Linked DNA regions of Homo sapiens. The protein of the gene in region 1 binds, or shares a complex with, the protein of each later gene. Each region holds a gene or a part of one and is shown in the gene's direction. Other genes may lie near its edges. The genes, in order: SMAD1 and SMURF1.

What was found.
Region 2: the proteins of SMAD1 (region 1) and SMURF1 are in contact, whole or in part, in an NMR structure (PDB 2LB1), measured with the Homo sapiens proteins. Residues at the interface, in NP_001003688.1 of Homo sapiens: Asp221, Thr222, Pro223, Pro224, Pro225, Ala226, Tyr227, Leu228, Pro229, Pro230, Glu231, Asp232; in NP_065162.1 of Homo sapiens: Glu313, Val314, Arg315, Ser316, Arg321, Tyr323, Val325, Asp326, His327, Arg330, Thr331, Thr332, Gln333, Phe334.

The regions. Positions count from the first base shown.
Region 1 is NC_000004.12:145,473,204-145,489,240, forward strand, and holds the start of SMAD1 (mothers against decapentaplegic homolog 1), read left to right. Parts: upstream 1-8,649; 5' UTR 8,650-8,835; intron 8,836-9,130; exon of another isoform or gene 9,131-9,973; intron 9,974-10,022; exon of another isoform or gene 10,023-11,561; intron 11,562-16,037. UniProt on the Homo sapiens protein: Transcriptional modulator that plays a role in various cellular processes, including embryonic development, cell differentiation, and tissue homeostasis.
Region 2 is NC_000007.14:99,129,842-99,145,314, reverse strand, and holds the start of SMURF1 (E3 ubiquitin-protein ligase SMURF1), read left to right. Parts: upstream 1-1,206; 5' UTR 1,207-1,534; coding exon 1,535-1,589; intron 1,590-15,473. UniProt on the Homo sapiens protein: E3 ubiquitin-protein ligase that acts as a negative regulator of BMP signaling pathway. Mediates ubiquitination and degradation of SMAD1 and SMAD5, 2 receptor-regulated SMADs specific for the BMP pathway.

The DNA.
Region 1 (16,037 bases):
CTGGCATTGAGTGCCTGCAGCTTTTCCAGGTGCACAGTGCAAGCAGTTGGTGAATCTACCATTCTGGGGTCTGGAAGATGACAACCCTCTTCTCACAGCTCTACTATGCAATGCCCCAGTAGGGACTCCATTTGAGGGCTCCAATCCCACATTTCCCCTCTGTACTGCCCTAGTAGAGGCTCTCCATGAGGACTCCACCTTGGCAGCACACTTCTGCCTGGACATCCAGGCATTTCCGTACATTATCTGAAATCTAGGCAGAGGCTCCCAAAGCTCAGCTCTTGTCATCTATGCGCCTGCAGGCCCAACACCACGTGGAAGCTGCCAAAGCCTGGGCCTTGCACCCTCCGAAGCAACAGCCCAAGCTGTATCTTGGCTCCTTTTTGCCATGGCTGGAGCTGGAGGGGCTGGGTTGCAGGGCATCATGTCCCAAAGTGGCACAGAGCAGCAGGGCCCTGGGCATGGCCCACAAAACCTTTTTTCCCTCGTAGGCCTCCAGGCCTGGAATGGGAGGGGCTGCTGCAAAGGTATCTTACATGCCCTGGAGACATTTTCCCCATTGTCTTGGCTGTTAACATTTGGTTTGTCTTTACTTATGCAAATTTCTGCAGCCAGCTTGAATTTGTCCCCAGAAAATGGCTCTTTTTTTTTTTCAACCACATGGTCAGGCTGCAAATTTTCCAAACTTTTATGCTCTGTTTCCCTTTTAAACATAAGTTCCAATTTCAGACCATCTCTTTGTGAACACATACGACTGTACGCTGTGAGGAGCAGCCAGACCACATCTTGAGTGCTTTGCTGCTTAGAAATTTCTTCTGCCAGATACCTTAAATCATCTCTCTCAAGTTCAAAGTTCCATAGATCTCTACAGCAAGGGCACAATGCTATCAGTCTTTTAGCTAAAGAATAGCAAGAGTGACCTTTACTGTAGTTCCCAATAACTTTCTCATTTCTATCTGAGCTCAACTCAGCCTGGACTTCACTACCCATATCACTATTAGCATTTTGGTCAAAATCATTCAACAAGTCTCCGTGAAGTTCCAAACTTTCCCACATCTTCCTGTCTTCTGTGCGCCAAATTGTTCCAACCTCTGCCCATTAGCCAGTTCCAAAGTTGCCTCCACATTTTCAGGTATCTATATAGTAATTCCCCACTTTCCTGGTACCAATTTTCTGTATTAGTCCATTCTCACACTGCTATAAAGAACTACCTGAGACTGGATAATTTATGAAGAAAACAGGTTTAACTGACTCAGTTCTGCAGGCTAAACAGGAAGCAAGGCTAGGAGGCCTCAGAAAACTTACAATTATGGTGGAAGTTGAAGGGGAAACCAAGCACGTCTTATTATTGTGGAGCAGGAGAGAGAGCGAGGTGGGGGAAGTGCTATACTTTTAAACTATCATATCTCATGAGAACTGACTCACTATCACCAGAACAGCACGGGGGAAATCTGCCCCCATGATCCAATCACCTCCCACCAGGTCACTCCCCTGACACATGGGGATTACAGTTCAATATGAGATTTGGGTGGGGACAGAGAGCCAAACCAAATCACCCCACAAATTTAAGAAGCTGGAAATATAAGTTCTACTGCCATCATAATGTTTACCATAGAATTTTCACATGGAACTTTGTAATGTATAGACTGTTACAAAACTCTCAGGAAAAGGGCTGACAACTTTTTATTAATTCCTACAATTTATAATTAGATCTGAATTTCAGACTTGGGGGCAATAATGAGAACAATTACTAGCTGTAATTAAGAAAAAATACCAATTTGTATTTGACCGCAACAGTTGTATTAGAGATTTATTCTTTCAGCAAATATTTGAGGGTCTGCCATGACAGGTCTGTGCAAACTTTGGGCTTGGAGATGGGAACACAAACTAGATACAGCTCCCACCCACATATTACTTAGAAGAGCAGTGGGGTTTTCTCACTGGATATTCAATAATTTGACTAAATACATTCATAATTACAGACAGCTATAAGTTCTTTGGAGCAAAGGGTGTGATGAGAGAATAAAGGATTTCAACAACAACAACATTTTTTTCTGAGACAGAGTCTTGCTCTTTGGCCCAGGCTGGAGTACAGTGGCATCCTCACAGCTCACTGCAGACTTGACCTTCCAGGCTCAATCCATCCTCCCACCTTAGCCTCCTGAGTAACTAGGACTACAGGCACATACCACCACACCTGGCTAATTTTTTGTATTTTTTGTAGAGATGGGGTTTCACCATGTTGCCCAGGCTGGTCTCGAACTCCTGACCCCCACCTCGGCCTCCCAAAGTGCTGGAATTACAGGCATCAGCCACCATGCCTGGCCAGCGTTCCTTTTAATATGAAAAATAACACACCAATGATCCTTGGCAGGCTCATTCCAGGAAAACTGAGTCACTTAAATTCCCTGAGGGAGCTGAACTATAAATCATTACATTTATTTTTCTATTGAGTAGAATCATCTCTTAAAACAGGTTTTTGGATTTACATTTTGCCTATATAAAATTTGCAGCCAATTTTAAGGACTCGTCTTATTATAAGTGATTAGTAGCTGATTTTTTCCTGATAAACTGATTAGCATAATTAGTTTGCCTTCAGTTCCTTAATATCTCCTTTTCTGGAAGGATCTTGTCCTCCTCTCTACCTCAGCCATCCGCCATCTCTGGTCACACCCCTACATCTTGGCATTGCTCAAAACTGCCCCAGCATCATGATTTCAATTTCAAGTATCTCATTCCCAGACTGCTCCCCAGCTTTTGGGAAAGGCTCCCAACTCCAGTAACTCATGGACCACACTAGGAGCTTCACTCGGTGGATCCTATCATCTTTCCAACATTTCACATTACTATATGTTCTCGCCTTCCTCCTATCACAGACCCCCGACAGTCACTCTATTGCCTATAGCTTCTGCTGTCTGATCCCCTTCCCTTCCCTGACATACACCTGCAAAACCCCAGCCCTAGTTAAACTCAGCTCTGTCCCCTCAGGTTAACCGAGGCTGGAGAAAAACCCACAGCCATGCTGACTGGTCTTACTTTAAATTCATGGCCACTAGGCTGGGTGTAGTGGCTCATGCCTGTAATCCCAGCACTTTGGGAGGCTGAGGCAGGTGGATCACCTGAGGTCAGGAGTTTGAGACCAGCCTGGCCAACATGGTGATACCCCGTCTCTACTGAAAATACAAAAATTAGCCGGGCATGCTGGTGCATGCCTGTAATCCCACTTACTAGGGAGGCTGAGGCAGGAGAATCACTTGAACCTGGGAGGCAGAGGTTGCAGTGAGCTGAGATCATGACAGTGAGCCAAGATTGTGACAATGCACTCCAGCCTGGGTGACTGAGCAAGACTCCATCTCAAAAAATTAAAAAAAAAAATTAATTAATTAATGGCCGCTAACCTCAAATGGACACTTAATAGTAGCAATCTTACCACATTTCCACAGTTCATTCACTCTCAAACCCTACCAGATGACTTAGATATTACTCCTCTCTCTTCCAACCTCCAGCATCTCTTCAATCCCACCATTCTCGGGAAGCAGGTTCCCGGGCAATTTCACTAAGATGAGAGAGTGGTGAGAAGAGACCATCCCTGCGTTCTCACCTCTGCAAGCAAGCACCAGCTTGTGTGCATCTGGGTCCACACACTCTGCCTTCCCTCCAGTCACTAGCTTTTCCTACATCACTGCACTGTCCCCAACCCTGCCCCCCAGCTTTTCAGTGGATGTGTAAAGTAGACTCAGCTTCTAGGTCTTTACACTTGCTCTTCCTTTTGCTTGGGAGGTTGGGAACTCATCCCTCAGAGTGTGTACTGTGCTTCCTTCCCTTCCTTCAGGACCTCTTGCAGTGAGGTTTCCTCTGCCCCTTTAGAAATAGTCATCTCTCCCATTCTCAATCCCTCTTCCCCTGTTTTTTCCATCACTTGTACCACTACCTAGCATATTTGCGTATTTATTTATTTATTTATTTATTTTTTTTTTTGAGATGGAGTCTCGCTCTGTCGCCCAGGCTGGAGTGCAGCGGCACGATCTCGGCTCACTGCAACCTCTGCCTCCCGGGTTCAAGTGATTCTCCTGCCTCAGCCTCCCAAGTAGCGGGGACTACAGGCACATGCCACCATGCCCGGCTAATTTTTTTTTTTTTTTGTATTTTTAGTAGAGATGGAGTTTCACCATGCTGGCCAGACTGGTTTTGAACTCCTGACCTCGTGATCCATCCACCTCGGTCTCCCAAAGTGCTGGGATTACAGGTGTGAGCCACCACGTCTGGCCGTGTATTTATTTATTATCTGTCTTCCTTAATGAGGGCAGGGATTTTTTTCTGCTTGCCACCATATCCCCTGCTAGAACAGTGCTTCACTTACTCATTCATTCAACAGGTATTTAATATGCTCCTGTTAAATACCAGGCACTGCTCAGGTGCTGAGATTATAGCAATGAACACAGAAGACCAAAAATCCTGCTCTTTTGGCTAAATAATACGGAGACATTTGAGTGAAGACTTGAGGGAGATGAAGGAGTGAGCCATGTGGACATCTGTGGGAAGAGCTGTCCAGGGAGTGCTATGGTTTGAATGCATTCCCCAAAGTTTATATATTGTAAACTTAATCCCCAGCGCAACAGTGTTGAGAGGTGAGAACTTCAAGAGGTGATTATGTCATGAGGACTGTTAAATTAAGTTTAGGCTAAAGCTGCCTCCATATATATATATATACGTATATATACATATGTACATATGTATATACATATATATACACACACATATATATATATATATATATATTTTTTTTTTTTTTTTTTTGAGACGGAGTTTTGCTCTTGTTGCCCAGGCTGGAGTACAATGGCATGATATTGGCTCACCGCAACCTCCGCTTGCCGGGTTCAACTGATTCTCCTGCCTCAGTCTCCCGAGTAGCTGGGATTACAGGCGTGAGCTACCACGCCCGGCCCATACATATTTTAAGTTAGGCCTAAAGGTTTCTCTGTACACAGCAAACTGTAACCTAACTGGATATGCAAACAGACTGTAGCCAACTCTTGTACCAATCACAGAGTTTTGGTCAATCACAGGCAGCCAACTGTTCAAACTGTGTTAAAATAAAGCAAATATTTAGCTCTAACCAATCCAGTTTTTTCTGTACCTCACTCCATTTTCTGTCACTTTTCTTTCTCTGCCCATAAACATCATCTGACCCTGTGGCAGCCCCAGAGTTGCTCTGAAACTATTCTGGTTCTGGGGGCTGCTCAGTTCTCAAATTGCTCTTTGCTCAATTAAACTCTGTTAAATTTAATTTGCCTAAAGTTTTTCTTTTAACAGGGATCTGTCCTCATGAATGGATTAATGGCATTATGGGAGTGCGGTTTGGTATCTCAGGAGGGGATTGCTGATATAAGCATGAGTTTGGCCCTTTTCTACCCTTCCTCTCATGTTCTCTCTCTTGCTATGTGATGCCTTCTGCTATGTTGTGATGAAGGAAGAAGGCCCTCACCAGATGCAGCCCCTTGATTTTGGATTTCTCAGCCCCCAGAACCATGAGCTAAATTAACTTTTATTGTGTATAAACTGCCCAGCTGGTGGTTGTATTGGTCCATTTTCATACTGCTATGAAGAAATACCCAAGACTGGGTAATTTATAAAGAAAACGTGGTTTAGGGCTGGGTACGGTGGCTCACGCCTGTAATCCCAGCACTTTGAGAGGCCAAGGCAGGTGGATCACCTGAGCTCAGGAGTTTGAGACCAGCCTGGCTAACACCACAAAACCCCGTCTCTACTAAAAAATACAAAAAAAGATTAGCCAGGCGTGGTGGTGCATGCCTGTAGTCCTAGCTACTTGGGAGGCCAAGGCAGGAGAATTGCTTGAACCCTGGAGGCAGAGGTTGCAGTGAGCTGAGGTTGCATCACTGCATTCCAGCCTGGGTGACAGAGTGAGATTCTGTCTCAAAAAAAAAAGGTTTAATGGACTCACAGTTTTACACGGCTGGGGAAGCCTCACAATCATGGCAGAAGGTGAAGGAGGAGCAAAGGCACATCTTACGTGGCAGCAGGCAAGAGGGCGTGTGCAGGGAAACTGCCCTTTATAAAACCGTCAGATTCTCATGAGACTTATTCACAATCACGAGAACAGCATGGGAAGAACCCACCCCCATGATTCGATTACCTCCCACCAGGTCCCTTCTATGACACATGGAGGTTATGGGAGCTACAATTCAAGATGAGATTTGGGTGGGGATACATAGCCAAACTCTATCAGTGGTATTCTATTACAGCAACACAAAATGAACTCAGAAAGGGAGGGAACAGCTAGCACATAGATACTGAGGTGAGAATGTGCCCAGATTGTTCCAGAAGAGTGAGGATGCCAGTGTGACTTGGGGAAGTGAGCAAGAGGAAGAGTAGAAGTGCAGGTCAGAGTGCTAAAGGAGGGGAAGGAAAGATTATGTAGAGTCTTGTGCTTATTATGGGAACTTTTATTCTGAGTGAAATGAGGACCCAAGGGAGGATTTTTTAAAAATTTAATAAAATGATATTAATATACAGTCCATATTTAGGTTTTTATAATGGTCTCATCAATGTCCTTTTAAAAAGAATATCCAAATTTTTATTATCATTTAAGGAAATAATTTGCACAATGGGCAAAATCAAATTTTATTGCATACATAATAATATTAATAGTTATCATTTAAGACTACTAGGACTGCACTAAGAAAGGCCATCTAGGCTGGGCGCGGTGGGTCATGCCTGTAATCCCAGAACTTTGAGAGGCTGAGACGGGTGGATCACTTGAGGCCAGGAGTTTGAGACCAGCCTGGCCAAAATGGTGAAACCCCGTCTCTACTTAGATGGGCGTGGTGGTGTGTATCTGTAGTCCCAGCTACTCGAGAGGTTGAGGCAAGAGAATTGCTTGAACCCGGGAGGCAGAGGTTGCAGTAAGCCGAGATCGTGCCATTGCACTCCAGCCTGGGCGACCGAGCGAGACTCCGTCTCAAAATTAAATAAATGCCATTTTTGATTTTTTTAAAAATTAACGACTTTAAAATGACAGTTTATAGCTCCTCCTCCCCATTCAGGATCCAATCAAGGTCATATACTGCATTTCATTGTCATGCTTTTTTTTTAATAGCTTGAGGTAAAATTCACATACCAAATGATTGACCCATTTAAAGTGTGCAATTTAATGGCTTTTGGTATATGCACAGAGTTGTGCAACCATCACCAGAAACTAGTTTTAGAACAATTTTGTCACCCCATAACCTTTAGCTGTCACTCCCCAGGTTCCTCATTTCCCCAACCCTATGCAAACCACCAATCTACTTTCTGTCTCCATAGCCTTGCCTACTCTGAGCATTTCACATATGTGGAAGAATACAATGTGTGGTCTGTCTTCTTTCCCTTCACGTTTTGAAAGGTTATCCATGTAGCATGCATCAGTATCAGTACTTCATTCCTTTTTATGGCTGAATAATGTTCTCTTGTATGGGATACTTTATACTATTTATCAAGGGAGGGTTTTCAACAGAGGAGTGGCCTGATCCGAGTGGCATTTAACAAGGTTCACTTTCCTGTTGTTCTAAGGAGCAGAGAATGATCAACTGCGTCAAACGCTGCTTTTAGGGAAAATAAGATGAGGCCCACGAATTGACCAGTAAGTGCTCAAATAGGTTAAGGGAAAAAGGAATTTAATTAGAAGACATATTCTGATATACATTGCTGGGAGTGATTTTTTTTTTTTTTTTTTTGCTTCATGTGAAATTTATTCCTCAAAAAAAAATCATTTTTTCTAAACGTAACTCAACATTATAGTAATTATGCAAGATTTTATGCAGCTTCAAGAGTTAGCCAAGAGAAAAGTTGACTCTTGCAAGAAGATATTTTCAATGTCTATGCAGATCAGGTAGGTAAGAGTTAAGTGCGGGGGAGTTGGCATCATCTAAAAGACTGTAGAAATTGGACCAAAAATGTGGAGTTCTAAAGCAGTATCTCCTTATGGCATGCCATTATTTGGAGCAACAAGGTTACCTACTCGAATCACTGGATCCTGAGTTGACACAAAACGCATCTGTTGACTCAGGGTTTGTATAACCACGTGCAGTATTTACTAGGCTATCCAATTCTGGGTACGTACAACTTCTGGGGCCTGCAAATTATTGGAGAGTGAGTGAGGGGCAACGAAAGATAGACATAAAAGGGCGCGTCTCGAAAGGTAACTGTCAACATGCACTCCACGTTTATAGAACGATTCAGTGGGCGCGGTGGAAGCGTTAATGAACATTTCAGAAAATAAACATATGGAACATCGAAATTCACTTGCAGATAATGGACTAAGTCCGCTCCACCGGGACTAAAAAGGCAGGGTTAGGAAAGCCTGAACGCCGCCACACTGTTTTTTCTCCAGGAAGAAACGGGGCGTGGGGCTGCCGGTAGAAGGGGGTGGCTCCGGCCGCTCCCCCGCGCCGTCCTCCGGCCCCGGCCGCGCTGCGCTCACGCCGGCCGGGCCGGGAATTTGGAGAGGATCCCTGGTCGCGCGGCAGCGGCGGCGGCGCGCGGGTGAGCGGGTGAGCGTGTGAGCGGGCGGGCGGGCAGGCGAGTGCGCCGGGTATTGGCAGCTGAGGAGTGGAGGCTGGGCAGCTCCGACTCCCTGACGCCAGCGCGACCAGATCAATCCAGGCTCCAGGAGAAAGCAGGCGGGCGGGCGGAGAAAGGAGAGGCCGAGCGGCTCAACCCGGGCCGAGGCTCGGGGAGCGGAGAGTGGCGCAGCGCCCGGCCGTCCGGACCCGGGCCGCGAGACCCCGCTCGCCCGGCCACTCGTGCTCCCACACGGACGGGCGCGCCGCCAACCCGGTAAAACGAAACAGACCCGAACCGAACTTTCCCTTCATGCCGCGTCCCAGCCCTCCCCTCGGCGCCCCGGGCTTTCCAGCGCCGCCGCCGCCGTCTCTGCACGCGTGGGGCCGCCGCGGTCGTGCTGGGCTGGGGGCGCGGGCAGCGGCGGGAAGGGGGCTCTTTCTGCGCGGGGCGGGCCGCGACCCCCCCCCCCCATGATGGCGCCTCCCGTCTGCTCGGAGGAGCGAACCTGCTACCACGTCTTCTCGCGCCCAGCCCGCCGGGCTCCCCTGGTGTCTTTGTTGGGTCTTCTGCTGTGGGAAGCCCAGTTCCCGGGCCCCCGAGCCTCGGCTCCCGGGCCTGACCGCGCTGGGATCTCCCCGGCCGCGCTCCCCTTCCGCGCGCTCCTCACATCTCTCCCGTGCTGCCGCCGGGCCGAGGCCCGTTCGCGTGGCCCGCGGACCCATTGTGTCCCCCGCGCCGGCGGGGCGACCCCTGCGGGAGCTGGAGGACGACCGCTGGCGCTGCTCTCCAAGGCGCCTGGTGGAGCGGGTCTCGCGGGCGGGGGACCCCGGCGCCCCGGGCCCCTCCACATCCCGCACGGGTTTTCTTCTCGGCCCCAGCAAGCCTCTTTGGGGTCGAGGTCAAGGAAAGTTCGCACCGAGATCCCCTCTAATTTATTCAAAGGTTTGGCGGCGGCGCGTAATTTTTTCCCCCTCTTCCGCCTACACCCGCTGCGTCTCCTGGTGTCTCGTTCCTTTCCCTTTACCGGAGTCGATTGCCTCACTGCATGTGTATTCGTGAGTTCGCGGTTGAACAACTGTTCCTTTACTCTGCTCCCTGTCTTTGTTAGTGTTTCTCGGGGTTGTTTCTGTAGGAAGGTGGGGGTGGTGGGCGTGAGAGACAGATGTGGGCTTGTTTTTCTAGTTGCTGAAACTGTATGAAGGCTTTAAAGGGAGAACGTTTTCTTGATGTGCTTTAGGAGGGGAGGAGGAACAAATGCCTGCCAGATCTCACAGCTACAGTAGCTGAGCTTTTGTTTATTTTGAAGAGCATGCAATTTTTAAATACACGGTGCAAGATAACCAGTAAAGGCGCGTTCCTTCTGAAAATTGAGGCCGGTCTCAGAACCATCTCCTGAGAAAGCATCCTTTTCGTGAGTGCTGAGACAACTGTCCTTTTTCTCTGCCCTCCCCCCTCTTTTCTTTCCATTGTATCTGAAGTTTCAAAGTACGTGGAATGATACAGAAGTTGCATGATTTCTGTTATTTCTTCCTGTTGCTGAAACTCTCAGCCGCTAAATCTCAGAATGCCTCTATTTCAGAACATCTCTGGGTCTAATTGCCTGTTGTGGATAACTTGCCCACACCTCAGTAACACAATGAGAAAACTGTTCCCTGCCCATGTTGATTTTTCAAATTGTTTGTAATTACTTTAAATTGTATTGAAGGTAGGTGGACCGTGTTAAAAAAGAATCGGAACAGAAGTGTTCACTGCCCCAGCATTTTCAATTGGTATAAATATTGTTGCATCAGTGTTATTCTGATGTAGGTGCCAGATCTAAATATGCTGTACTGATTAAAGTGTTTGTTCTGCCCTCTCCCACTCTCTTTCCCATTTGCAATTATTTGCTATTTCTGTGCAGGTGGTGTATCATTGGTGTAATACTGCAGTTCTTAGGAAGGTGTAGCTAGGGTCGTGAGAGATGATTTTTCTGGAGGTGGGTGATGCCAGAGCCTCTAGAGGATCCAGGCAGGATCGAGTTTCTTCTGAGGGTAGGGATTTGTCCTTGATTTAGTTTTGACCCCTACAACCATAGGTATGTAACCAAATACATTTTACCTCTTGCAGTATCCTTTGGTTTCGTATCCTTGAAGAGCTGATGACCTTTGTGTTTTAGAGAAATGACAATTTTTAGGCAATTAAAGACATTGGCCTCTTACACTTCTTGGAATTTTATGTTATTTTTACTAAGTTCATTAAGGCATTAAGAGGAAGTTGTCACATTTTCTCAACTACGTTTATTACATTTATTAGTTAAAAACTAAATTTCACTTTGTAATTTTGATTTCTAGCAATTCTGGGTTAAATATTAAATCTAATAACCTAGTAGATTGGAAAAAGAAGTAGCTTGGGTATAGTAATTAGACTAGCATGTTTAAGCTGCAGTAGCCTACATAATCAAGGCCAAGTGTGTGTGTATAAAAGATCTCATTTGTGTAGTCTTACAAGGCTAATGGAGGCATCACTGAGGCTTTATAAATAATGTAAGTTGGGTATAATGTAGAGTCTCCAGAGACGGCAGAGAAAGCATCATTACCAGCCTTTTCAACCTGCTTGAGATCTTAAATTGATTTACAGCACTGAACTGGTGCAAAATGATACATCAGGATGACATGGGGTCAGCCTGTAAAAGTCTATGATGTCAGCCTATTAGTTCAGTCATCATAATTAAACCATATTACAGGGGTAGCTAAGCAGGAGTCTGGCGTTATACTTCAGATATGGGTGGTACATGGGTTTTGTTTATAGTGGAAAGGCTGAGATGGCCAGGGATACCAGTGTGTGTGAAAGAGGGAAAAGGCTTACAGAACTATGAATTTCTGTAGAAAAATTTAAGATAAATGCAGAGATATTCAATCTGAATTGTATAAGTAGCTTTTCATTTGGTAGAGGAGAAACAGATGCTTTAGGGATGCTGATAAGGACCTTTGCAGCTCTGATATGTGTACTGAATGCTTCATGTGAGTTTGAATTTAACTTGGCCTTAGGGACCTTATAAAATATCAGTGGACCACATACTTAACTTTGATCCTTTTATTACCCCTGAATTTTCACTGTATTGATATCTACTGACATGTTATTTCTTTAACTAGTCAAACTTACCAGGCCTATACCAGAAACAAAGATATTTGAATTGAACATATAAACAGTTCAGGAAAAGAAGATCCTTATTTTGCTTAAGTTTCTGACAATCCTTATTTAGCTTATGGATTATCTAGGGCTCTGCTATCCTAGCCATAGTCACACGTAGCTTTTTTTGAAATTTTATTATTCTATTTTTTTGAGACAGGGTCTCTCTGTGTTACCCAGGCTGGAGTGCAGTGGCACGATCATGGCTCACTGCAGCCTCGACCTCCCAGGCCCAGGCAGTCCTCCCACTTCAGCCTCCCAAGTTGCTGGGACTACAGGCACTGCCACCATGTCTGCCTGACTAATTTGTTTTTGTATTTCTTGTAGAGACAGGGTTTCGTCATGTTGCCCAGGCTGGTCTTGAACTCCTGGGCTCAAGCTGTTCTCCCGCCTCGGCCTCCCAAAGTGTTGGGGTTACAGGTGTGAGCCACTGCACTCGGCTACTTATAGCTATTTAAGTTTAAATTAAAATTAAATAAAAATTCGTTTTCTCAGCAGTAGCCGCATTTCAAGTGCTTAGTAGCTGCTTGTGGTTAGTGGCTGCCATACTGGACAGCGTGTATATAGAATAGTTCCATCATCACAGGAGGTTCTGCTAGCCATTGCTGCCCCAGGACCTTTACCTCTTCTCACTTGTTAACTCTACTAATGATTTGTGGAGTCAAAGATGGAAAGACATATATAAACTAATTTTATCACTAACTAGCTGTTCTTTTTAAAATAAAACACAATTTGGAAGGGACAGTTGAAGCTGCTGGATAAAAGGAGTTTGACTTTTCTGTAGATCTTATTTATTATTAGTGTCATCGATTCTAATTTGGTTTAGAGCCTTAGAGAGAAGAAATAATTGTAGCTAACCCTTTTTTCTGAATTTTTACTGTATGTATGCCAGGCATTGTTTATAATACCCATATCTCATTTAAGCCTCAAAACTTCCATAAGTACTATTGTTGTCACATTTTACAGGTAAAGAAACTGAGGACAGAATGATTCAGTATCTTGCTTCAGGAGGTACAGTGAATGATTATGATTTCTAATCTTACCTGGGATATGATCGAGGCAGTCCAACTCTAGAAACTCCATCTTAACTATGTTTTTTGGTCTTTCGTTCAGAAGACCCAAATCATCATTGTTCTGCTGTGCTTTACTATGCCAGTATAGACATGACTTGGCTTGTGTATTTTGTAGGTCTTTAAATAAATTTACCTTCTATTGTGCCTTTCTGGGCTATCTTCTGTCGTTCTTTTGTAAGTGTTTAAGAAAGGAAAAATAATGCTCATCTAAGCAGCACATAATTTGAAGAATAAATCTGGCATGAAAATAATGCATTTCAAAGCCAAATTAGTTTTATCTCTGCTTTTCTGCATAATTCTTGTCACTTTCCTCTTGCATTTTCTTACATAATCACAAACTGATATTAAGTTAGGAGGAAAGTTGTAGTAATTCAGTTTGTCTGTCTTACCAAAATTAGTCTATCTTCCCTGAGCTGTTAAACACTGTAAGAATAGTAATTGCAAATTCATTGGGGATTTTTAAAAAAACATTCAACATCTATTTTTGTAAATGTTTTACAAGGTCAGGGCTGTTTAAGAATCGATGAAACTATGGATCTTGTATCTTCTTATTCCCACCTTCCTATCCCAAAATGCTTATATGTCATGGTGAGTTAATGTGTACACTTAACTATCCAAATCTCATGGTCTTTCGGGTGAAATATGTCCATGGGACTGCCAAGTGCTTTCATAAACATTAAGATTTGTAATTTCCTTTACAGAGAATAGAGATACTTAGTATTAAAAGTTGCTTTAAAGATTTTCTAATCTGGTTGGTTCATATCAAGGTGAACAGTCTGAAGTCCAGAGAAGGTAACTGACATCCAAAGTTACCTGTCTAGTGATTGGAAAAGGGAAAGCCAAGATCTGGACTCCTCTTGGCATTAAGTGCCCTTTTGTTTTCAGGTTTTTTTTCTCCCTACCACGCTCACGATATTTCTGAGGCTTTGGTGTAAGCATATCCAGTGTAATTTAGGGAAGGGAGGAAAGAATTTTTTGGCCTGTTAGCAACTTTTTATACCTAACATTGTTTGAGCTAAGTAGGAATCAAATCTGACAACCAGAGAGAAATGCTTATTTTCTACATATTAAAATTGATTCTTTTTCATTCTGGAGATGGAAAAGAAAAGCCCTATATCTAATTTAATCAATGAGACCTTATTAGAAAATGGGAGATCCAAGATTGCACAAAGTTCAAATTAAAGCAGGCAACTCTGACATCTAGCAAAATATACGAATCTCCTCTTGACTCTCGAAAACAAATCACATTCCTAACCAAAAGCTAAAGTTTGGGGTATTTAGGGAGCTAGGGAGTCCTAGGGAGAGAATTGGACAGGTCTGAGGAGAAAAAGGATAATTTAAATATAAAAAAGTGGAAAAAATCGGTTTTAAGTCATAGCATGTCTTTGAGGTTGATGAAATGTTCTGCTACTTCTATATGTGGTTTTACTCTTTGGTACCAAGATTTTAGGACATACTTTGATAACAAATAGGGGCATGTCCTCTTTGCCCCAATCTGAAACCTCTTGACCCTTTATTTTCCTTTCCTGCTGTTATCTGGTAGTACAAATATTCAGTCTAATCTGTTGATCTGGCATCTGATTTGCAGCAAAAATACCTGAAGTATTTTCATCACTCTGCTGTAGCCACCTTTAAAAAGAAAAGGAAAGAGAAGAAAAAGGCAGAGCCAAATAGTATTAATGTAATTGCTTAAAATCTAAATTAAAATACTCATCTTGCTCTGCGTTATTAAGATGGTGTCAGTTTTAGAGGTGCAGGGCTAGTCCTATATGCAAAACAGTAATGTCTGTAGCTATTGCGGGCTGACTTGCAGAAATGAGCGGCTTCTCTAGAACATTCATTTGCATAAAGGAAACTATCTTTCAGAAAAGAAAAGCCAAAAGTTTCATAAGCAGTTTCACTCCAGTGACTACATCAGAGTTTTAGTAAGGTACTGGGAACTACAGTATTTGAACAGTTCAGCATCTTTATAATTTTTGTTATAAGCTAAAATCTGAACTTTAGAGAAGACTCTCTCTTGAAAATAAAGCATTAAATTCTCTAAGGTGTGAGGAAGTCCTTACCTGGTGATTTTCCCAAATCTCTTTTATGTTCTTAGTGTTTGAAAAAGGAACTTTTTTTTTTTTAATAAGAACCTAGGTTTGCAGTATAGATTGGTTTCTTAACAAATATTTTTTTTGAGACAATAAGCCTGGATCTGAAGAAAGAACATACAATTGTTAATTATGCATGTATATGCTTTTGAGTTCAGGATGTAAATGAATATTCACTAGGTCCTGTTTGGGAAGAGGAGGAGAGAGGGGTCTCTCTGTTGATTCAGAATATATTTTTATACATAAGTTTTAATGCTTTATTTGTAGTTTCCCCTTAATTGTAGGGCTGCTGTACTGTGGATATTTTGCTCTACAATCTGAGATTGTTAGGGTATAGTTACTCCAACTATTCATGTATTATCCTCTCCCTGTCTTTTTGTGTGTGTGTGTGTGTGTGTGTGTGTGGTTTCTTTGTGGTGTGCTTATGCAAAGTAGAAGTATTCCAGACCTTTATAGCTTTTTTTTCTTTTAGTTTCAAACACTTCAAGAAAAAAGGTGGGGGGGAGACTCTCTCAACGGTTATAATTAGGCATTAATTAAGCCATTATTCAGTTAACTAAATGCAAGATCTTTTGTTTGTTTAGATGGAAAAGAAACGTATCTTTTTAATGAAGGAGGGATATTAAATGGGCCCTTATTTGATCATTTTGCTGCAGTATTGTAATAAGTATATGCTTCATTTATTCCCTGAATATTTATTAGTTCTGAGGCTTAATAATTAGAGTATACACAAACATGAAAAATTAAATGCAGCAACATTATAAGAGCCGTTACAAGGTAGTATAGGAGTAAATTGTACAGACAACTCACATCAGGACCACTGTGGCCTGGAAGGACATGTGAGTTTGCATAGGCAGAAGGAAGAGGGACATTATAGACAGAGTAATGGCATGAAAAACTGGGAGATAAGCATGAGTGTTGAGTATCTGTAGAGCAGCACTGTCCAATAGAATTTCTGCAGTGATGGAAATGTTCCACATCTGTGCTAATACAGTAGCTGTAGCCACACATGGAACAGCATTTTTTAAAAAATTAATTTATGTTTCAGTAGCCACATGTGGTTATCATATCAAATAGCACAGATCCAGAGGCAGTGAGCAGCCCTGCCTGACCTCAGTGGGTGTTCCTCATGGAGCCTAGT
Region 2 (15,473 bases), on another chromosome or scaffold:
GTGCCACTGCACTCCAGCCTGGGTGACAGAGTGAGACCCTGTCTCAAAAAACAACAACAACAACAACAAGGTAGTGGGTAAAAAACAAGTTTGATAAACCTAGTTTTCCCTCTTTCTAATAATACCAGTTTATTTCTATAACATGCTAACAGAGAGGAGTTTGTTTGCTGGAGAAAGCGCATAATGAGCTTTTTCTGTGTGTGTGTGTGTGTGTGTGTGTGTGTGTTTTGAGACAGTGTCTAGCTCTGTCACCCAGGCTGTAGTGCAGTGGCCTGATCATAGCTCACTGCAGCCATGAACTCTGGGGCTCAAGTGATCCTCCCACCTCAGCCTCCCAGTACCTGGGACTACAGGCGCGCACCACCATGCCCAGCTAATTTTTGTATTTTTTGTAGAGATGGAGTCTCCCTATGTTGCCCAGGCTGGCCTCAAAGTCCTGGGCTCAAGTGATCCGCCCGCCTCGGCCTCCCAAAGTGCTGGGATTACAGGCTACAGCCACCGTACCCAGCCATGAGCTTTTGGTTCTAACCTGCAACCCCGGGAGAAGGGGAAATTTAGCAGAAGACATGGGAACACAAACCACAATGCCACTTTCTTGTTTGGTAAAATTGTATGCAGAATGGATAATAACAAACATCCGCCTCTCAACTTTATCCCTCCCTCTCATCTCGTTTTCCTTGTCCGTATATGGCACTTCTGCGATTCTGGCAACTTTGTTATGGGTCAGTGGAGCACACCCGTTGCACAGAACACACCTAAGGGCTTTGTCTCTTTGAGAAGTCCCTCCCTTGAACTTGCACGATCGAAAGCTCTTAACTGAAAAAAACTGGTATTGCACGCCTGTGTGCAAGGAGCTTGGTGTGGACACAGCCCACGGTTTCATGCAAACCACTCTTCAGTCACTCAGGAGCCCAGAGCCTCGCAGAGACAGGGGTCAAGACAGAGGGCGACCGCGCGCTGGGTCCCGGGGCCAGCTCTGCTCTCCCTTCCCGGGCTCGGGGCCAGACCCTCCCACCCACCGACCACAGGAAGGGTGAAGACCCCAACCCGCGGGATCCGGGCCCCGCGCGCCCGAGGCAGGCGTGCGGGCGACGTAGCAGCGCACCCCGCCCCGCCCCAGCGTACGTGGCGGGGGCGCGCACGCACGCAGGCGCGGGGGCGCGCAGGGCCGGGCCGGCACGGCGGCGGGCGCGCGCGCGGCTCGGAGAGGCGGCGGCAGCGGCGGAAGCGGCGAGGGCGGCGGGCGTCCGGCTCTGAGGTGGTGGAGGCGGCGGAGGCGGCGGCGGAGGCGGCGGCGGCTCGGGACTGGGCTCGGCTGGAAGCAGCGAGGGTCAGAGCGCCGCAGCAAGCGCCGATCTCCCGGCTCGACCATCCGCCTGCCGCCCGGACGCCTGGGCCGCGGAGTTTGTGTCCCGGCTCGGACCCCGGCGCCCAGCCCGGAGCCGTAACCTTGAGGCGGCGGCGGCGGGGCCGGGCCGGGCCGGGCTGGGGGGCGGTGGCGCTGGATCCGCGGCTGCCCGATCGTTGGCGGGAGATGTCGAACCCCGGGACACGCAGGAACGGCTCCAGCATCAAGATCCGTCTGACAGGTACGGCCGGCGGGAGGCCCACCCGCGCCCCGGCGCCCCCTCGCCCGCCCCGGAATTCCCCGCAGGGCGCCCTTGGAAGCGGCCCTCCCCCACGCCGGCCGTTGTCCCAGGACCTCGTCACCCCCTTCGGCGTGCGCCCCTCGCTTCTCCCTCCTGGCCCCGCCCCCTCGCCGTTGCCCGGCCCCGCCCCCTGGCCGCTCGCGCCCCCTCGGTCTCGCGTTCCCTCCCGTTCCCCCGCACCTGCCCCCTCGCATCTCCGTCCTGGCCCCGCCCCTCTCATTTCCATTCATGGCCACGCCCCTTGCATCTCCTTCCCTGGCCCCGCCCCTCGCTTCTCTTTTCCTGGCCCCGCCCCTTGCATCTCCTTCCAGGCCCTTTCCCCTCACCTCTCCCCGGCTCGGCCCCTTGCCTCTCGCTTCCCTTCCTCTCCCTAGCACCTGACCCCTCGCTTCTCCCCCCAGGCCCCGCCCCCTTGCCTTTCACCTCCATCCCTGTGGTCCTTTCTCTTCCCCACCTTTCCTCCCCAAACCTGACCCCGCCCATCTCTCTGGCCCCACCCCCTCGCTCCTCTCTGCTCCCGCCTCCTAACTTTCTGTCCCCGCCCCCTCGCTTCTCCCTGCGTCCAGCTCCCTCGCTTCTCTCTGGTCCCGCCTCCTCACTTCTTTCCTAGCCTGGGCCCTCACTTCTTCCTGGTCCCGCCTCCTCACTTCTTTCCTAGCATCGGCCCTCACTTCTTCCTGGTCCCGCCCCCTTGCTTCTCTCCTTTTTTTCTCCTCCGCCGTTTTTACCCCCTCCCTCCTTCTCCTCGCTTCCCATCCTCTCCGCCCACCTGCCCCCTCGCTTTTCCCTCCTGGCCTTGCCTCTGTTCCCCTGGTCCCATCCCTCACTTCTCACCACTTTCCCATCATCTCTCTTGCTTTCCTGTTTTCCCTCCCACCTGCTCCCTCCCCTCATCCTCCTGGTCTTTCCCACCACTTCCAAGCTATTTTGCTACCTCCCCTTCCACTTGCCCCCTTGCTTCTCCCCTCCTGCCCCCACCCACCCTCTTCTCACTCCCCCATCCTCTTTCGTTTCTCCCTCACCCCCCCACACCGTCCTCCTCCCTTCTTCCCCTAGCCCCGCCCCTCACTTTCAAGCCCCGCCCTCATTCCTGCCTAGCCCCGCCCCCTCGCTGCTGTCTGGCGAGGCCTCCACCCTTTCTTTCCTTCAGCCTGAAATTCCTCAATCCTATCTTGTAGCTGCTCCCAGTCCTGCTCTCTTCACTTCCCCCTGGTCCAGCCCTCTTCAGTCTCAGTCTGGGCCACTTCCTGTCTCTTAGGCCAGACCGCTAGCTACTTTTAACTCTGCTTCTTCAATTTTTACCTTTTCTGCATTTTGTTTCACCATCACCCCCACACTCAGCAACCCAGAGCGCCGTGAGGCTCTGATCCCTACTCCCACACTCACTGGAGGCTTTGGAAGCTGCCCACACGCAGGCTCCTTGATTCATTTTGTCTTCAATGAAAAGTCCGTGTTTCCTGGGTGGCTCTGTAGTGCCACCTTCAAGGGTGAGCGCAACGCTCTGCCGCGGGCCTGCGACTTGGTGGCGCGGATGTGATGCCAACCTGTTTCCCCCCGGGCTCCAGAGGTTCTGGACCAGGCTGCATCCTCGTCTTCCCTTTCTCACTCTCATTGGTACTACTCTCTTTCCAGTTTCAATTCATCCCTAAAGCAGGATGGCCGTGTTGCAAATGCGGCTCTGCTCCGGGACTTTCCAAACTCGAATATTTCCAGCTCTGGAAGGAAACTAAAAAGTTCATTCTAATCCCCGTCAGGGATTTTCCCCTGGATTTTTCTGTTCAGTGGCTCAGTCGGGTGAGAACTCCAAAGTCCTGGTTTGGTCAGGTCCTTTCAAAGAGAGAATGAGCGTTTTGAACACTTTATGGCAGATGCGCAGCCATAAAGTCATCGGTAAAATCCATGCAAACAATAGGTAATTTTTTTAAACTAAAATTTACTTTGAGAGCCCATAGTTGTTGCATGGCCCAACTTTTGTCTTAAGAGAAGGTTTTGTTTTTTTGTATAAAGATATCAAATAATGATTTGGACCCAAACCCAGACCCTGGTTTTGTAACGTAGGAGGTAGTTTCCTCTGGGATCTTTGCTTCTGGGGAAATACATTTCTTTATGCCAGGGCTGATAGGAAACGCTTCTCACTTTGTAGATACAATGTAGATACATTTTTATTTATGTGGTAAGATAAAAGTAACATTTTTGAGATTGTAATACTTGTAAAGCTTTTAACTTGGTTCTGATTTACAGCTCAGTCTGTAATTGACATCAGATTGGTTTCAGTTATCTTGTTAAAAGCGAAAGCAACTGATTTTGTGTTAGAAATATGATGAATGTTTTAGAAGGAATAGGTTTTAATTGAAATGTTTATGTCTGGTGTATGTATATTAATCAATCCTATTTGCCAAGCCTGAGCCTTGAAAGGGAGGACTTGGTTTCTCCTCCTACCAAATTATTTTTGGATTTAGGAATTTAGATTATCGAAGCAAGAATGCTTTGAGGAATTTTTGGATGACATTTGATAGGGAAGGATCAGGTGATGAGTGTTGTTTCTGAAACACCTTTTCCCTTTCCCTTTCCCTTTCAGTAGATGTTATGAATGGTTTGAGAGGATTTGTGAGTGTGATCATCCTTACAATAGGATTGCGGTTTAGCGGTAATGGTACACATGCAATGCCAGTACGTGGAACCTTAGTTTACCTCGAAAGGTTTGAACTAGAAGTTTGTTGACGGTGGAATAGGTTTTAGTCTCATCTTTCTGGTTAAGGGAAGTTTGAATTCTCACTTCTGGGATGTTGAGAAGCAATCTTTCAAAATTTGAATACTTTTGTTACAGGTTTCAGAGTTTATTTCCATGTTTGTTATTTGGAAAAAAAAAAAAGACTGTTAAAAATGAGGGATATTTCAACCAGTCAATGAATAGACACAGAGCGAAATTCAGTGCAAAGATAGTGAAGATGGCCTGGCGCCGTGGCTCACGCCTGAATCCCAGCACTTTGGGAGGCTGAGGCAGATCACGAGGTCAGGAGGTTGAGACCATCCTGGCTAACACGGTGAAACCCCGTCTCTACTAGAAATACAAAAAATTAGCTGGGCGCGGTGGCTCACACCTGTAATCTCAGCACTTTGGGAGGCTGAGGTGGGGCGGATCACGAGGTCAGGAGATTGAGACCATCCTGACTAACACAGTGAAACCTCGTCTCTAGTAGAAATACAAAAAATTAGCTGGGTGTGGTGGCGGGCGCCTGTAGTCCCAGCTACTGGGTAGGCTGAGGCAGGAGAATGGCTTGAACCTGGGAGGTGGAGCTTGCAGTGAACCGAGATTGTGCCACTGCACTTCAGCCTGGGCAACAGAGTGAGACTCTGTCTCAAAAAAAAAAAAAAAAAAAAAAAGGATACTGAAGATACTACATTTAGAACTTTGGGGTCCACGATTCTATTTGGGGGTGAATAGGGCATTAGATTTACAGTTAGGAGACCTAGATTCTAGACAGATTTCTCATTAACTACATGTTACGGAACAAGTTATTTAACCTTTTTGGGTCTCAGTTTCTTTATATATCAAATGAGATTTCAGCTCCATTATAATACTCTTTGATCCTCCTTCTCACAGGATATATCAATTTAGCTACCTACTTATTTCAAATTACTGTTGGGCACTTGGGCTTAGTGGTATTCTTAATCCTGATATTCAGAAAATTGTGTTGGAGTGTAGCACATGTGTTTGATTTATGCCAAGCATTAATTTTGTGTATTGATTACATTTATGACTTTATTTCTTCATGTGGGATTGTTTTTGAAAACTGTTGGGTAATATGTTGAACTGCTTTGGCAACCTGGTCTAAACAGTAGAAGAATATTTGAGCCTTTGTATTTAAAATAATAACATTTTAACGAATGTTTTTGTGGTATTTTAGTAGGAAAATAGTTTTTAAATGGTTTCAGTAGGTTTAGGGGCATAATATATCCAGAATCAAGTGATCTTTTGTTAAAGAGCATTATCTTGTAGTCATTGGAGTTCACTGGCAAATCAAACACTTTAGAAACATTTTGATTGAAAAATCAAGCAGGATTTGCAAAAACTTTGTTCTTATCTGGTACACAAATGAATCCCAGACACATTGTTTAGGCCACTTTGGGTAAAAGAATGGAATTCAGGGTTCTACAATGCTCTTCAAGAAAATTAAATTTTATTGTAATGTCAACCAATTAGTTGAAATACAAGTGCCTAAACTTTTTTGTGCTTTTATGCATTGAAATACTCTCAGATATCCTGGTGTTTTTATATCTTTTGGAGCATGACTGCATATTGTGAAGTAAGAAAAACTCTAATTCCAAACAGAGAGGAACAAAGAGACTTTCCTTGATAGCATGTGGAAATATGAGGTTGTTTTTAAAATTGTAGCTTGTGGGATGTAAGGGTGACTTGTGTTTTGGCATTCAGATGGTGCAACTGTGAGTGAAATAGTTGTGGTAATAGCTGTTGATGATGTTGGTTGATGAATTACAGGTGTCTCAATTGATTCAAAATAGTTAAGTCTCTCAAGAAAGATTAAGAAAATTGTTAAGACTGTTGACTTTGTCAATTTGTACCAGCTAAGAACCTCACTTATGTGAGGCAGGCAAAACTTTTGTTTCAAAAACCATATAACACAGTTGCTGTGATAAGATGGAATAAGTGGTCAGTTTTTAGCTCCCTTTGCATTTACATTTTCCTTAGGGTCTGCCTCAAGTTTAGGAAGATACAGTTAAGGCAGTTCTTTGAGATGAATTATTGGAAGGTGTAGGATGGGTTAGAACAAATGCTGTTGCAAAACTTGAATTGCAATTATACTTTAAGAAGAATCACATTCTGCCAAATAGAGGTTTTTGTCATTGATTTTGTGATTTGATCACATTTGTGTTGCCTTTTAGAACAACTTTCTTTTTTCAAATCCATTTTTTTTTCCTTTTAATCTTCTTGGCCCACCCAACTGACTTTAGACATGAAATCTTTCATATGCTTTATTTCTATCTCCATTTTTACAGTAGTTGTGATTTATCAAACTAGGATTTTTAACTTCAAGTCCATCTGTCAGAGTTTAAAACCTCTAGTCTTGCAGTTACAAAAGTCCTTTCTGAATGTTGGGTTTTTCTTTCTCTTCCACACATTTTCATTTTCTCGGTTCAGTCACAATGTCAGGTTCTAGTGTGGAAAATTGGGTGAAAGAAAGGTTTTGGAGGCTGTGTTATTTATGAAATATTTCCTCATGGATTAAGAAAGAAAAAAAGACAAAACGACAAATAGTGTTTCAATATCACCTCAGTGATCCAGTTAACTAGACTGGCTGTTTTGTACAACATCGTGGGCACTGGTTAACAGTTAAAATAGCTGAATTGTGCGTTTTATTCAGTGGTTCAAAAAAGCCTCAAATGGATGAAATAACTTGATATCTTCGCCATGCTCTGATTTGCTGGGTAAGACAGCTAACTTTTAGGATGCTTATTTGGATCAATTTTTTATAATTTCAAAACCATTTTAGAGGCTAATTTTTTTTTAAACAAGGAATATACAATTTTTTTTTTTTGTCACTGAACAAGTTTTAAATTACTGGTTTGTTATTTTGTAAGTGAATTTGTAAGTGAAAGCCTCCAACTTAAATTAGCTTCTTGTCCAGGGAACTCATTCTGACTGACTAAAGTCCCTAAGGCCTTTCTAGTTAAAGGAAAGCCATGGAGCTATGTTTAAAAAACAAAAGCACATAGCTATGGGGCTTGGGCATATCTTCTTTTTAAAATGTCACTATTACTGTTTTGTCTCCAGATGCAATTTAATCCATTTAGATATTTAAACCAAGTGGAATGTTGTTTCCACATTTCTGGACTAATGGGGGAAAAAACACCCTCATATTGTTTTAAAACAAGGCTTAAATAATGTATAATCAGCGCGTCTGGTGACGCGCCCCACTCTGTAATTCCAGCTGTGTTCACCTCCACTGCAGCTGAAAGGAATTCTAATTGGCTGAGGAATGTCGGCAACATCGTTTATCACTGAGCAGGAACCTATCCTCCTGGCTGCTGGGTGATGCATTTCAGATGTTTTAAGCTCCGGAGCCCAACTTGCAGCTTGCTTTCAGGAGTCTGGAGGAGCATGTCACGAAGCTGCAGATTGTAGATGGCAGCCTGCGTTCTTTGTATGTTGGGCATCCGCTGAGTTCTCTAAAGGGCATGATGCTTTCCTGTGGTTCCAACACTGGACTGGGGATCAGAAGGTCTGAATTTGATTTCTAATTCACACAAGTACCACAATGAAGAAAGGGGAGGGGGTGCATAGGATTATGATCTTTTCATGATTCAGTTTTCCTATCTTTAATGCCAGAGATCTGTCTTTTTAGAGCACAAAAGGACCTGCTAGAGATGGATTAAATATTTTAATGAGTAGTTATGAATTATTTATAGAGTAGCACAGTATTAATACAGTCATAGATTCCTGTTATGTCTTATTCCTAAATAGCCAGGTAAATAATAAAGCTAATAACGTACTTTGACATTGAAGAAAATCTATAGAACCGGTTAATAAACATGGAAAAATAATACAATGAATTGATAAATTATGTATTCAGAAATTCCTTAGAGAAATAGTGTTAGAAGCCAAAACCAGTATTATCTTTATTTTTATTTTATGTTTTTCCCAGGCCAGGTAATGTGCCATCGGACAGTATCATGTTTATTTTTTGTTTTGTTTGGAGATGGGGTCTCACTCTGTTACCCAGACTGGGGTGCAGTGGCACCATAACAGCTCACTGCAGCCTCGACTTCTTGGGCTCCAGTGATCCTCCCACCTCAGCCTCCCGAGTAGCTGAGACCACAGGCATGTGCCACCACGGCTGGCTAATCATTGTAGTTTTGGTAGAGATGGGGTTTCGCCCTGTTGCCCGGCTGGTCTTGAATTCCTGAGCTCAAGCAATCCACCTGCCTCAGCCTCCCAAAGTACGTGGATTACAGGCATGAGCCACTGCACCTAGCCAGCATCATCTTTAAATGATGAAATTGTGGAAACATTCCCATTAAAATCAGGAACAATGCAGGGATGTACACTGTCAAAATAGTTATTATTAATAACTAGAGAAAGACATCAGAAAGCAGGAAACAAAATTGCTGTTATTTATAGACGTTATGATATATCTTTAAAAGCCCAAAAGATCAGCTGAAAAACACTTATAAACAATAAAAAACTTTAGCTGGATGGAAAATTTCTCCATGGCAAAAAATAGGATAAAATCAACATGCAAAGACAAACTAGGAACAACAATCTGTAATGGATACGAAAATGAAAGTCTGGTTTTCCTAATATATAAAGAGCCTTCAAAATCAATTAGGAAAAGGCCAGTACCTAATAGGCAAAGAATATGGACAATTCACAGAAAAGAAAATGGAAATGGATTTGAAACATGTGAAAAGACAACCCTATTTTCTCTCTTCTTCTTTCCTTTTCTTCTTTAGAGATGGGGTCTTGCTCTGTCGCCCAGGCTAGGCTAGAGTACACTGGCGTGATCATAGCTCACTGCAGCCTGGAACTCCTGGGCTCAAGCGATCATCAGCTTCCTGAGTAGCTGGGACTGCAAGTATATGCCGCTGTGCCCTGTTCTCTCTTATGCCCATTTTCTTTCTCTAAAAATTTATTTTTAATTGATAATCAGCCCTATTCATACTAAACAAACTACAAATTAAAAGTAAGAATGAAACAATTTTTCATCTAGAAGAGTGGCAGATCAAAGAGATTGAAAATCTTCTGTGATGAGACAAGAGTGTGGAAAAACAGGTCTTTTACTCTAGTGGTTGAGAATATAAATTGATAGAGTAGGTACCAAGAGCAGTTTGGCACTGTCTATCAGATCATAAATGTTTATGCTCTTTGATCTAGCAATTCTGCATGTAGGACTTTTTTCTTATGGGTGTTTTCACACATTTATGTAAAGTCCGGTGTGTAAAATCATTGCAGCATTGTTTGAAATTATAAAAGACTGAAATCAATGTGAATGTGTATCAGCAGGGACTAGTTAAGTAAATTATCGTGTATTCCCAATGATGTGTAGCTGTAACATAATAAGATAGTGTTTTATATTCTGATATGGAACATTCTCCAAGATATATTATTGAGTGGGGGGAAAAAGCATGATTCAAAACAGAGGCTAGTGTGTGTACTATTTGAATAATAAAACAAGAAATAAAAATAAAGGGGGAAATCTATAGATAGGTCTGTATAGAATACGACTGAAAGATTTTGACTGTTGATTTCCTTTGAAGAGATTCTCCTGTTCTCCTCTTCAGAGGAAAGAGAGAGGAGAGAGGGAGAGAGGAGAGAAAAGAGAGAAGAGAGGGTGACTTTTCATTATATGCCTTTTGTAATATTTAATCTCCTCCCTTTTCTCACCCCCTTGAGCATGTATTGCTTTTCAACAATTAAAAAGATTAAAAAGCTCTTAAATAGATAAGAATTTCTTAGAGCAACTAGTAAGTACACTAACTGCCAATTGTTTTGAAATGTAGACATTCTGAAAAATCAAAATGATTGTGCCGAATGTATTTTAAAAGGCTAAAATATTATAGCATTTCAAAGTACATACTCATATTTATAAGGACTTCCTCACTAGGAAGATTCCTGGGTTCTACAGAATAAAATTCTTGGCTACTTGTCTTATAGCTCTGAACAGACTTATTTTCCCAGAGAGTATGTTTATTATGTAATAGCGAGTTGCCTGACCCCCCAAAAAGCTTGTTCTATCATATTAAAATAAGGCAAAATGATTACTTTCAGATTAAGAAATTTGGACTCTAGATCTTGTTTATATAGTGAGTTCTTTAAAAAACTGAGGTCTTGGTTCTGAATAATAGTGGTTTACATAATTTATTTAGAATGTCATTTGGGGTTATCTCTGACCTATTTTTATAAAATAATCTCATCTTTAAAATAGGAGTAAAATGCTCATTTGCATAAGCCAGTAATAATAATTTAGTATTTTTCCAAGTATTTATAGTCAATGTGTTTGCCATGAACTTTTTTAAGGGATTGTTTTTAATTTTAGAAGTGCTTTAAAAAGCAATATTGGCATCTGGCTCTGTAGAAGTAGAAAACATGGTAACTTCAATGTGATATATTTGCTTTTTTCCCCTCTTAGGTCTTTGGGGTAAAAAAAATCCAAAGTTTACTCAATTTTATTTCTACATATATTACCTACAAATTATAGAGGTGAGACCTGCTTGCTGCCTGTTCATACCTGTCAGTGATACTAATACCTCCCGTCTGTACAGTGTTTCATAGTTTCCAAAGGGTTCTCGCGTGGTTCCTCACTTGAGCCTGGTGAGGAAATACCTGTAAACATGGGTAGAAGTTTTAGTCCCTTGTAAAACTCTGGTATAATATCAAAACCAGGAAATTGTTCACAGATTCTAAGGATTGGGGAAAAGAGAAAAATAAACAAATTGCTCAGGAGTAGAATTTGCAAAAAAAAACGAAACAAAACCAAAAAACTCTGGAAATAAGGCACGTTTAGCCTTACAGAGCGAGACCCTGTCTCAAAAAAAAAAAAAAAAAAAAGTGGGTGGAGAAGCACTTTTCCTGATCTAGATCAAGAAATAGAATATTGCTGGTGCTTGGAATGTCCCTACAATCCTGAAAATAGCTCATTCTCACTTTCTACCTCCCTCAGCCGCACCCCCCTGGCAAAGATAACCACAGTCCTGACTTGTAACAGCCTGTTTTTGAACTTTGTATTAATGGAATCTTACTGCATGCAACTGGTTTCTTTTGTTCAATGTTATTTTTGTGAGATTTATCCGTATTGTTATGTGTGGTTGTACGTCAGTCATTCTCTTTGCTGTTCAATATCCCATTATGGGCATATACCATAATTTATCCCTTTATCTGTTGATGGGCAGAGTCCTTTCTAGTTTTGGCTTTTAAGACTAGTGCTGTTTGGAATTTTCAGGTATATGTCTTTTGGTGAGTATTTGCATACACTTCTGTTGGGTGTATACTCAGGAGTAGAGTCACTGGACTGTGGAATAGGCATATGTTCAACTGTAATGAAACTTGCCAAATGCTTTTCCGAAGTGGTTATACCAATTTACATTTTCCACCAGTGGCGTATGAGAGTTCCAGGTGCTCCTTTGCCAATCTGCGTGTTTTCTTTTTCATTTTAACCCTTTCCTTGAGTGTGGATTGGTGTCACATATTGTGGTTCTACTTTCTTTTTTCTCTAATCTATACCTTAAATGGCAGCCTTAGAGACCTTTTTTTTTTCTTTTTTAATTTTGAAGTAATGATAGATTCACAGGAGATGGGAGAGAAATGTACCGGGAGGTCCTGTGTACCCTTCACTCAGCCTCCCCCAATTTTAGTGTTTTGTATAACTGTGGCATGTCAAAACCAGGAACTTGTTCATGGGTTCTAACGATAGGGAAAAAGTAAGGGCAAAATAATGCAAGCAAAAAGACCCGGGAAACTAACTGTTTACATTGGTGCAATCCAGAGCTTAGTCAGATTTCACTAGCTCCGCGTGCACTGCGTGTGGGTGGGGTGTGTGTGTGTGTAGCAGTCTATGCAGTTTGATCCCATGTACAAATTCATATCACCACCATTGCAATCAAGATGACCAGCTGCACCACCACCCCAGCCTCCTTGGAGCTATCCCTTTCTAGCCGCATCCACCCATCCCCAGTCCCTGGGACCCTGGCAACCACTAAACTGTCACCCCCAAATCTTTTAAGAGCATAAATCAGATCATGTCATTTCCTTCCTTAAAGCCCTCCAGCAGCTCCCTACTCAGAATAAAATCAAACTCCCTCTGTGATCCTGCCATATTCCTCTCTGGCAGCCTCTGTGCCAGGTTCTGCCTTATTCTCCACCCCAGTCCTCAAATGTGGCGAGTTTAATCCTGCTTAAGGGCTTTTGCATGAATTATTCCTCTGTGTGTGTGTGTGTGTGTGTGTGTGTCCGTGTGTCTGTGTGATGTTATAATACTCTTCCTCTTGACTTCTCAATGGCTTCTTCCTGTCATTCAGGCCTTCAGCCTAAATAAATATCATCACCTCAGGGATACCCTCCCTGACCATCCCTTCATAGTCCCTCCCTCACTCACGATCAGGCAGCCTATTCTGCTGTCTTCATAGCACTCACCACTTCATGGTATTTTTGTTTGGTTATTCTCCCATCATCCATCTACCAATGTCCAATCAATTTTTATTTTCTGTCTCTGCTCTTGGTAGTCAAGTTCCGTGAAGCTAGGGTCCTTGCTGTCTGTTTACTTCTGTATCCCCTTCAACACTGCTTGGCACCTGCTGGTGCTCACAAATACCTGGTGAATGAGAGAATTAATGCCCTCCTTGTTTATTGGGTCTCCTGGTCGCCTCTGAGTTGGGCGTCGGAGGACACCTCTCCTGGAGGCAGCATTGCGTTCATAGCCACTTCTTGTTGATATGAGCAGGGATTAGAGATCAAGCAATTACAGGTTGTTGTCAGCCAGGCTTGGGGTTTCTTTGACTATGTGATACCCTAAAAGGCAAGTCTACTCTATCTTGGGCTTCTGGGCCATTCCAGGGGCTTGAACCAAAGCCCGAAATTTTAATTCTGGAATTTGGCCCAGCTTTGTAGCTTTTGGTTTCCAGGTCTTTTCCTTAGCCTCTCCCTCAGGGCTGGCGGGGATAACTGGTTGGGCTGGAGAGACATCATTCATTTGCCCCTTGCCCAAGCTTTGCGGTTGCATCTTGAATAACGTTTCCCATTTTCAGGCTGTGAATACTGGACCTGAGTGCTTGGGAGAGACCTGGGGAAGCCTTCTTTTGCTCACCCTACCCCACAGCCTTATCTCCTGCTAAGTCTTCCCTCCCTTTCTTTCTTCATCCTATCTCTTGGTTCCCCTAGATTGCATTTTGTAGCAGAAAGGGCCTCTTTTCCTCCCTCTTCACTGCATTTTCTTTGAGACAGGATCTTGTTCTGTCGCCCAGGCTGGAGTACAATGGCACAGTCATAGCCCACTGCAGCCTCAAACTCCTGGGCTCAAGTCATCCCCACCTCAGCATGAGCCACCATGCCCAGCTAATTTTTAAACTTTTTGTAGAGACAGGGTCTCACTATATTGCCCAGGCTTGTCCAGAACTCCTGGCTTCAAGCGATCCTCCCATCTTGGTCTCCCAAAGTACTAGGATTACAGGCAAGAACCACCCACCTACCCATTTCCTTGATTCTTTCCTACCAAGTCCCTTAGTGTTCCTTGTAGTCTTGGTGGTTGCATCAGACCACAGTCTGATTGTTTCTTTCCCTGATAATAAAGATAGTTAAATTCTCAGGCCGGGTGAGGAGGGTATTCATTGATTTTTCACCCTGCCTCCTTTCTTCAGCTAATTTCCACATTTTTAATTCTGTCTTTTATGTACAATATCGCACTTCCTAATGTTGTTGTTGTTTAAAAGCAGGATACCTTCAGATGTAAGTAGCAGAAAACCTAGGTTAAATTAGCTCAATAGAGAGAATTTTAGTGACTTCACTGAAAAGCCCAAGTCATTCCAATGGCAAAGCAAGGACCTGGTTTCTCTCTATATCTCAGTGTTTTGACCTCAGCACTATTCATGACCATCTCTTCCCCTTGTGCTCAAAAGCTCCATGGCTGTTTGCTTGCAGCTTTAAATCCAGCAGAAAAGTTAAAAGTCTGCTTCTTCAACAGCTCAGTCCTGGGGTAGAAGGCCTGGAGTTGAATCCTCTTGTCTCATTGGCCTAATTTGGGTCAAGTGTTCATTGCTGAACCAACCGCTGTGGCTGGGATGATGGGATGTGCTCGTTGGACAATTAGGTTCCATCTTTGAATCTAATCAGGGGGTTAGTCCCACCCACAATACAGACTTGGGTTGTTTGGGGGAACAGGAATATGGATGCCAGGTGGGCAATCAATAAATAACTAGATGATACCGATTGTTTTCTTTTAAAATTTATAATGTTAGCTTCATTATGCTGAGTAAAAGGAAGGTACAGCTACCATTTAATGCACTTCTGAAAAAGAAGTATACCTTCTTTGTGGTAGTATGAAGCAAAAGATTTGGTAAAAGTGCCAAGAATTTTTGACCAAGGGTTAGGAGTGGTACCTTTATATGTGAACTTAGCCCCATAAATTTTGTTGTCAATTTGTATTGCAGAATGTTCCTGGATTGTTGTATAATGTTATTTGGGACTTTTTGTTTTTCTTTTTGGAGACGGAGTTTCACTTTTGTCACCCAGGCTGGAGTGCAGTGGTGTGATCTTAGCTCACTGCAATCTCTGCCTTCTGGGTTCAAGTGATTCTCCTGCCTCAGCCTCCCAAGTAGCTGGAACTACAGGCATGTGCCACTGCGCCTGGCTAATTTTTTGTATTTTTAGTAGAGATAGGTTTCACCATGTTGGCCAGGCTGGCCTTGAACTCTTGACCTCAGCTGATTGGCCCGCCTCAGCCTCCCAAAGTGCTGGGATTACAGGTGTGAGCCACTATGCCCAGCCTATTTGGGAGTATTTTTAAACAAAATTCAGGTACAGATTATAGGAATACATTCTTAAATTATTTCTCTAGAGATAACAGAGCAGTTTTAAGAGAGAGAAATACATGCTGATTATCTGTAAATTGAATTCAGGATGTGTAGAAAGAAAAATAATTTAGTTTTTATGCAATAATATGATTTTTATAGGATAGTTGATTATCAGCCCTACCCTATAATAAATTCTTTGAATTAATGTCTGTTCTTGATATCTGGGGCTCTGTATTTTCACTTCTATATTCTTAAAAAGAAAAAAAGTTTTTGTAAGATGCTTCGCTGAAGTTCGAACCTGTG